Homo sapiens: one gene and its partner. The protein of the gene in region 1 purifies or fractionates together with the protein of each later gene. This does not show direct contact. Each region holds a gene or a part of one and is shown in the gene's direction. Other genes may lie near its edges.

The links. The genes of interacting proteins can lie anywhere in the genome.
Region 2: the proteins of CIRSR (region 1) and TF purify together in Homo sapiens (affinity purification with mass spectrometry; one large-scale study listed by BioGRID and IntAct). This does not show direct contact.

Annotation. Positions count from the first base shown.
Region 1 is NC_000002.12:174,353,022-174,358,596, reverse strand, and holds part of CIRSR (corepressor interacting with RBPJ 1), read left to right. Parts: intron 1-5,575. UniProt on the Homo sapiens protein: May modulate splice site selection during alternative splicing of pre-mRNAs. Regulates transcription and acts as corepressor for RBPJ. Recruits RBPJ to the Sin3-histone deacetylase complex (HDAC). Required for RBPJ-mediated repression of transcription.
Region 2 is NC_000003.12:133,793,226-133,797,146, forward strand, and holds the end of TF (serotransferrin isoform 1 precursor), read left to right. Parts: 3' UTR 1-3,416; downstream 3,417-3,921. UniProt on the Homo sapiens protein: Transferrins are iron binding transport proteins which can bind two Fe(3+) ions in association with the binding of an anion, usually bicarbonate.

The DNA of each region.
Region 1 (5,575 bases):
AAATTAAGTTGAAAATATAAGTAATTACATATAAGTCATATATCTTTATATTCATTCTAGGCCGGGCACAGTGGCTCACGCCTGTAATCCCAGCACTTTGGGAGGCCAAGGCTGGTGGATCATTTGAGGTCAGGAGTTCGAGACCAGCCTGACCAACATGATGAAACCCCGTCTCTACTGAAATACAAAAATTAGCCGGGTTTTGTGGCCAGCGCCTGTAATCACAGCTGCTGGGAGGCTGAGGCAGGAGAATCGCTTGAACCCAGGAGGTGGAAGTTGCAGTGAGCTGAGATGGTGTCATTGCACTTCAGCCTGGGCGATAGAGCAAGATTCCCTCTCAAAAAAATAAAAATAAATAAAAATAAAATATCTTCATTGTGTAAGGCAAAGTTTCTAATAAACAGTGATTTTTTTTACTAGCATACAATAAGGACAGTTTCATATTTCTTTGCCTTTGTGTACTTTCCAGACACATAGACTAAAACGAAATGTTTAGTTTTTCCTTTACATTGTGTGTTTCAATAGACATCAATTAGCTGTCTTCAGTATGAACTTGGGATGAGGGCAATAAGAAACCCTATGTTTCCAGCCTCCACTAAGATGAACTGGCAGTGTGTCAGGAAAATTCCCAGTATGGAGCAGTTTTATTACAATTCAGTACAGTTGGTTCTTGCATAACCTTTAGAAAATCATACATAAAACATTCACATCTATATAAATAAAAATCACCCACACACTTTATTAATAGCTTTGTTCACTTTTTTTCCTGGGTGTTATGCTGCATGTTCCTACTGAGCCCCTTTTTTAAGTCTTTTTAAAAGATAACTTTAAGCTTTCTTAAAAGCAGAAAGGTTATGGTAATATTAGTAATCAAATATAAGTGTAAGATAATTCTTGATAAGTCCCATTAGACACATATCTCCCTCCTGATCACATACTCTAACTAGTGTCTAACTGTCCTTTTTACATTTAGTGACAGGGACTGGCTTATTCGCTAGATATAGCCAATTTAACTTTAGGAAAGAAAAAGGGACAGAAGATTGTACTTTCTTTCATTTGTGATAATGTTGGGGTTTATTTTAAAACAACTTTTATGGTTATATTACTGTTAGTTTGACTGCAATAAATACATGGGAAAGTGATTACAAGAACATACAAGTAGTCTTGGCCTCCTTTTTCTTTAGCTAGAAACATGTTTTAATTAACCAGAAGTGTATTTTCAGGTGTCATTTTCCTAAATCCAAACTTTACAAAACTTGCCATATATTCCCCCAAAGTATGTGGTATAAAATATCAAAATAATTTAATAATAAGCCTCTAGACTTAACTACCAATTTATAGGAAATATAAGAGCTAGAGAAACATGTTAAATGGCATCACTGTCCAGAATGTGGGAAATCTACAGGACAAATTACCCAATTTCTTTAACAAATGAATAACAATAGGGAGGGGAAGATAGGTAAATGTTTTAGATTAAAAGAGATCTATAAATCAAATACAATATGTGGACCTTGTTTGTATCCTAATCTGAGCAAACCAACTGTAAAAAGATACTTTTGAGACAGTTTGAGAAATCTGAATGTTGACTATTCGATGACATTTTAAAATTATCAATGTTGAGAAGCATAATAAAGGTATTGAGGTTGAGATTTTATTTAAAATATTCTATGAAAAAAATAAATTTGGAAGTAATAGCTAAGACAAGAATGACAAAATATTGTTAATTGTTGAAGCTATGTGATGTAGGTTTGCAATTTTCCGTAGTATAAAGTTAAATTAAAACACACACACAATGAGAAGGGAAAAAAAATAGATCATCACTGTAATAGGAAGCAAAACTATATTCACTTTAGGGTAGCAATTTAGTTTCAGCCAACAGTGGCATCCTATAAATTAAGTACATAATATATTAAATTTGGGAGAAGGAGAGACAGGCCAGTCAGTCAGTCTGTCCTCTTTCCTTCCCCTTCCCCTTCTTCCTTCCTTCCTTCTTCCCTCCCTCCCTCTTTCTTTCTTTCCTTTCTTTCTCCTTTCTTTCTTCCTTTCCTTCCTTCCTTCCTTCCTTTCTTCTTTCTTTCTTTCTTCCTTCCCTTCTTCCTTCCCGTCTGTCTTTTTTTCTGTCTGTCTTTTGACAGGATCTCACTCTGTTGCTGAGGCCGGAGTGCAGTGGTGAGATCACAGGCTCACTGCACCCTCAACCTCCTGTGTTCAAGTGATCCTCCCACCTCACCCTCTCTAGTAGCTGGGAGTATAGGCATGTGCGCCACCACGGCCAGCTAATTTTTGTATTTTTTGTAGAGACAGGGTCTCACCATGTTGCCCAAGCTGGTCTTGAACTCCTGGACTCAGGCGATCCACCCGCCTCTGCCTCCCAAAGTGCCGGGACTACAGGCATGAGCCACTGCGCCTGGCCAGGAAAGGCATTTCTAATTCAGCCTTACCTAACCTACAACTCACTGCCCCCTTTTCTCCTACTTAATACCATAAAATTGTAGGTGATAATGCATTGTTTGAAAAGAATGATGGGCCAGGTGTGGTGGCTCACACCTGTAATCCCAGCACTTTGGGAGGCCGAGGTGGGTGGATCACGAGGTCAGGAGATCAAGACCATCCTGGCTAAAGAAAAGAATGATGAACTTCGAATGGAGCAGATGGACCTAGTGTTTGCAGTGAAACACAAGTGTCTTTGACTTCAGCTTTAGTCTCCCTCCTATGCCATTTGTGGCATTCCCCTGGGACTGCCATACTATAATTGTGGAGTCAGTTGTATGCCATTTCCTCATAGCCAGAACTTTTGAGTTTATATATTATTCTTTGATAAAATACCTATTTTACAACAGGACATTCTTTTTTTACCTTTCATTGTTTTTGTTCTGTAAAAATGAATACTCTTAGTGAGTAGATTAAGCGCTTTACACACATAATTTTGTATAGCATAATTTACCTTCTAGGAATTTTTTCTTTCCTGAGACTCGATTTCATGGTATTTTTCTAGTAGAGCCTGGGTCTAATCAGAACATGGAACTGTACACAATTGGTATTTTGATACTTATCCATATCACAGCAAAGAAAAGTTTGTAAAATAAATGAATGTTGAAAGCAGTTTCTTCAGTGGACCTGCTTTTCTAAGTGGGAACATTGGTTTTCAATGCTGTGAAGGCTTGGCTGAGATGATCTAGAAAGGAGCCCTCACAAATCTGCATTTTAGAACAAATGCCTTCTTTCTGAATTCTCTAGTATTATTCTACCATGACAAATTTAAGAATAAGCCAAACAATTTTTAAGATCCAACTCCAGCTATAATTGAAATTATTAAGGCACCATACATAAAAGTAGTTATTTTACATTTGAACATATTTGTGTAATCTATTTTATCAACGTATCTGTAATCATCTATTTTATCAACCAAATTTTGAGTTCTCAAAAGATCTGGAGTCATTTCTGTCAGTGTAACTCTACGTAGCCTCTGTCATAATAATGTGAAAGTAGAAAGATACTTGCTAAATATATCTTGATTAAACCTGACTTGTTTCATCTCCTAAACCTAGAACTTTAAACTCAGAACTTTGGTTGATAGGAGAAGGTTTAAGTATAAAAAAAATGTGAATAAGACTGCATTGTGAAAAGTATTACTACTAAGAGCATTTTTTTGTATTATGAAAAGTACCGTAAGATAGTCATGGAATTTGGATAGTGGCCGGGTGCAGTGGCTTACAACTGTAATCCCAGTACTTTGGGAGACCTAGGCAGGTGTATTATTTGAGCTGAGGCATTCAAGACCAGCCTGGGCAACATGGCAAAACCCTGTCTCTACCAAAAAAAAAAATATATATATATATAATATATATACATATGTAAAATATATATTATATAATATATATTATATTATATATAATATATGTATTATATAATATATAAAATATATAATATATATTATATAATATATAAAAATATATAATATATATTATATAATATATAAAATATATAATATAATATATATTATATGATATATATAATATATAATATAATATATAAAATATATATAATATAATATATATTATATAATATATAAAATATATTATATGATATATATAATATAATTTATATAATATAATATATATTATATATATTTTATATATTATATTATATAATATATTATATATATCATATAATATATATTATATATAATATATAAAATATATATGTACATATATAAGTAATATATGTACATATATAATATATCTTATAAAAAGACAATTTCTTATATAAGAAAGTTGAATAGGTACTGGTAAAAATAATAGTTGTTACTCTTTATTAAGTACTATTTGTCGAGCACTTCACTAAGCACTCTATTTACAGTCATACATTGTGAAAGTGTGCTAAATTTATATACTACACAGAGTTTTCAGTTGGGATTTTTGAAAAATATAAATGCTAGAAGAGTAATGATTGTTTAATAGTCTGTATAATCTCTGTAACACTGGGGAAATACATCATTTTCTTGACATAGTTGGAAGTACTGTAAAGAAGGCATGCTTTCTATAACATCTTATTAAAATTACCCATCTTGTGATGAAAACTGATGAAATTAGTATAACCTCTCATCATGATGGCCAAGCTTTGTGACCCTTTATTGGAGTGGTTTTTATTCTAATTATTAACAAGTTTGGTGTCTGAATTCATTCGATATCTAATAAAATTGTTGACAAGGAAATGTAGTTTTGACACTTCAGAAGAGACATTTTCTACTTTATAAAATTAAGTTCCTACATGTGAAATTTGAGAAGCCACCAAAGTAAACATTCTATTATTCATTTAAAGCTCTTAATTGAGCCGGGCGCGGTGGCTCACGGCTGTAATCCCAGCACTTTAGGAGGCTGAGGCTGGCAGATCACGAGGTCAGGAGTTTGAGACCAGCCTGACCAACATGGTGAAACCCCGTTTCTACTACAAATACGAAAATTAGCCAGGCATGGTGGCAGTTGCCTGTAATCCCAGCTACTCCAGAGGCTGAGGCAGGAGAATTGCTTTAACCCAGGTGGCGGAGGTTGCAGTGAGCCGAGATCGTGCCACTGCACTCCAGCCTGGGCAACAGAGCAAGACTCCATCTCACACACACACACACAAAAAGCTCTTAATTGTATGAGCACCTCTATGCCATTTAGAGGCAACCAGTATTAATATTTAAAATTCAATTTTATTTAAGATTGTATTATCAATGTTAACAACCAGACTGAATAATTAAAGGGCCATTAAAGTAATACATAGGAATTAAACATTTTGTATAGAAGAAAAAAATTAAAAACCCTCTTGGTTTAAAATGAAATATTAATATAAGACAGGTGTTTTTGTTTGTTTTTAACTAAATAAGGCTTTTTTTCCTAAAACTATGACATCATTAATAACTTCCCCCATACTCCAATAATAGACAGTTTTTCCCCATCATCTCCCTAGTACCTAGGGCAAACTTACAGTTGTTCTTCGCAATATGAATGGAATGGTAAAGCCTGGAAAGTCCAGTAAAATATATTATCTTATAACTGAGTTTTTCTCACCAAATTTTTAACCACATCTG
Region 2 (3,921 bases), on another chromosome or scaffold:
TATCAACATGGAAAGGTTTTTGCCTTTTAAAACATTTTTGAGTCATCATTTTGCTAAATGAATGACTATGGTAACCTGGAATTCCATTTCATAATGTCAAGTGTTTTAAATCTTTAACATATTTAATAGGCTTCCCAAAATCAAATTTCAGCTTCAAAATTGTCTTTTCTAACCTCTAACTTTGAGATGCTGCAGAGGGCCCCTGAAGCATCCAAAAGAGAGGTAAACAGAATTATTTGACATGTTTAATTACATGGGAAGCATTGTCAAAAAGAAAAAAATTTAATCTTCTTCAGGTTATATTTTAGTGAATAATATTAATATATGTTCCAAAATTGTATGAGATTTCTAAAATTCCAATATGTCTGAGTATATGCTATCAATCATAATTATGATTATTATGTTATTGTAGACCACAGAAATAACCAAATTTCCTTGTCAATTGTGTTTTTAACTATAACTATTTAAAGTCATTTCCACAGTTAATTGCTTAATGCTGATGCAGTTTCTGAAAACTTCACAAGCATGCAAAGTCCTAGAATATGGTGTCTTTTAGGAGATTCATGAAAGATTGGAAAGGACCCTAAAAAGCACTCTTGAATACAGGTTTCTAATAAGTTTAGAATTATATCATTTGAACTGGGTAAGAATTCCTGGAACTTTAATGAAAAGACTGACTGAGTTCTAAAACTGCTAACCCAAGTAGAACAAAAATTAATTAAATACCAAGAAAATACTTTGCCAGATTTTCATGCTAAATCAGCTGATACTGAAACTGTTTAGATATAAAATTTGAATAAACTCCATCATTTAAATCAAATTACCTATGATAACCCATCAGTTATCAGTGTTATGCACCTAATTTGGGGAAACAACTGGTATTCAAGAGGATATGAGTCTAATGTTAATTAAGCATGAACTCATGGAGAACCAGGATGGCCACCTTGTCCTTCCTAAGTCGTTAAAGCTTTTGTTAGTAAAATTTCTGCATTACATGACTCGTCACGGAAAAGATAAAATGATCCAAATTGAATATATTGATGTGGTGACTTATAAATTGCTAAAATAGTTTATAACCAATGTTTGGTCCCATATTCCTGGGAAAACAATCAAAGCTTCAGGTACATCCAGTCACCTGATAGGCCATTTAAACATTTTATAGAGGGATTTTATTCAATTGTTATTTTCAGTGCATGTTTTCTGGTTGTATAAAAGCTTTCCCATGCAAGAGGGCTGATGTTATAACACTAAGTTATTATGCCACCAAGTATTTTCACAAGGTAAAGAAAGCTTTTTATGGTTCACTGAGGACAATCAACTCCTTCACAACCTAGAAACTGAAGATTGTATCTTCTGAAAACATTGGATAAAGACTGTCCTTGCCATCCACACTACAGCAAAACTTCTGGACTTTGAACTTTGGGTTCATGATCTCACAACTGAGAAGAGTCCCTCCACACTCTTGGAACTGTACACCCATTGGAACCCTTAAGGTAAAGCTAACCAGGGAAGTTTCTCTCCCGAAGAAGATGGCATCCTTGATGTGAACAGCTTTTCCCAAGATCATGAATCAAGACTTCTCTATTATCATGAGACTCTTATCTTTGAATATTTTTTCCTTGCTTTTGCCTCTATGAAGAATAGAAGTGGAAAAAGGATCTGTTGTGTACAATTATGGGTTATACTTTTATTTGTGAAGAATTTTGCAGCCAGCTTTAGGTCCTTTTTCCATGATTTGGAATAAAAGAGGCAAATGTATCCCTCATAATAGGCTCCATAGCAGTTTACTGTAAAGGCTATGGTTACATAATAGACTAAATTATCTTAAGAAAGTTATGCTAAATAATAGAGTTGGCTAAACAGAAGAGTATCTGTGCAGCTGCTGGCACTCATGGCCTATGGAGAAAACATCAGGTATTATAGAGATTCAGTTGTAGCAAATTAATGAAGAGACTGCTTAGTTAAGTGAGTAGACTCTTTAGCTCATTGTTTAATCTATTTGAGTTTAGGAGGTTTGGTTTATGGTGACCCTGGATAAGGAGCATACTTACTCTCAACTCTTGGTATTATCCTCCTGATAGTCATAATAATAGTCTCCCTGGTGTGCTGTATTCTCTCAACGGTTTTAAATGTTTGCATGCTGCCACCTCTAGAATGTCAAATGGCCTCTCTTCAACTGGAATGACAAGAGCTGAAAGAAATTGCAGCCATGAGGACACTGTAACCTACGAATGATGTGCTGAGTCCAAAAGCCCAAAGTGTTGGTAACTGAGAGTGGTGCTAAGTAAGGCCCTAAGTTTTGGTCACACTCTCACTTAAGTGAGAACCTGACCAAAAAAGTGGAATTTTTTTTTTTTTTTTTTTTTTTGAGATGGAGTCTCACTCTGTCACCCGGGCTGGAGTGCAGTGGCACGATCTCGGCTCACTGCAAGCTCCACTTCCCGGGTTCACGCCATTTTTCTGTCTCAGCCTCCCGAGTAGCTGGGACTACAGGCACCTGCCACCACGCCCGGCTAATTTTTTTGTATTTTTAGTGGAGACGGGGTTTCACCATGTTAGCCAGGATGGTCTCGATCTCCTAACCTCATGATCTGCCCACCTCGGCCTCCCAAAGTGCTGGGATAACAGGCGTGAGCCACTGCACCTGGCCAAAAAGGGGAATTTTTTTTAAACAAAATTATGGGAGGTCATTTTTTTGTACTGAGCCCATGCGCCAGGCCCCAACAGACCAAACTAAACCAAAACGGAGTCACGTATGCCAAGACCTTAAGGAAACACATAGATCCTAGAACAGACCACAGGCCAGGTTTTGTTTTTCTCCTACAAATCTCTATAACAAACATTCCTGACAGCATAGATATCCACCCCCTGAGTTCCCATTAAATCTTTTAACCAAATTAATTTCCTCTCGCCAAAAGACCATCAAGCTTCAGATGATCATGCAACAAAAGTTTCATCCAGTTCCACCACCCCTGGCCATCAAGGAGCTACCCTGCCTTCACTAGAAAGAGCAGAGCAGGACTTCTGTGATCCTCAATAGGTAGGGACTAGGCCTCAAGCCAACATGAAGCAGTTACAAAAGAAAGACCATCGGCCCCTCCACCTCCCATAAAGATTTATGGGGATCCCATCTCTGGAGGGAAATGAGGCAGAAGAATAGGGTCTGTAGGCAAGGAATATAAGGCAGATGCATGCTCACTTCCTAGAACTAAATCAAATGGAAACACTTCAGCTATGATGGGAAATGTCTTCTGTATTTACATAGGGCATACACTGAGTAACCAATGGAAACCTCTAGAGGGTATTTAAACCCCAGAAAATTCTGTAACCGGGCTATTGAGCCCCTATGCTCAAGCCCTCTGCCACCCTGTGGAGTGTACTTTTGTTTTCAATAAACCTCTGCTTTTGTTGCTTCATTCTTTCCTTGCTTTGTTTGTGCATTTTGTCCAATTATTTGTTCAAGAAGCCAAGAACCTGGACACCCTCCAGTAGTAACACTACTGGACATATAGTGGACAAAATTAAGTCCTTATTTGAAACATCTAGTCTTCTAGATGTTTAGAAGTGCACACAGTATGTTAAAAGTAGAGGTAGTAAATAACACATTTTGTAGATATCCTTTTGATTCATATGAAACATTGTCTTTTGGAAATTGATCAAACCACTTCACATTATATTTATGCTGATTCAGGGAGGAAGGAGCAGAAGAAAGTGCAAAGGGCTTTATATCAGTGTGTTTACAGTATGACACAATTGACTGTTGTCCCTTATATCTGCATTTCCTTTTACTTTGCTGTGTATACAAACAAACATTTACATAGCTTTGGAATTTTGAATTGGTAAATATTCATGATGTGTGAAAAAGCATGATACATACTGTATGATCCCAATTGCATAACATTGGATGGTGTCCTAATTTAT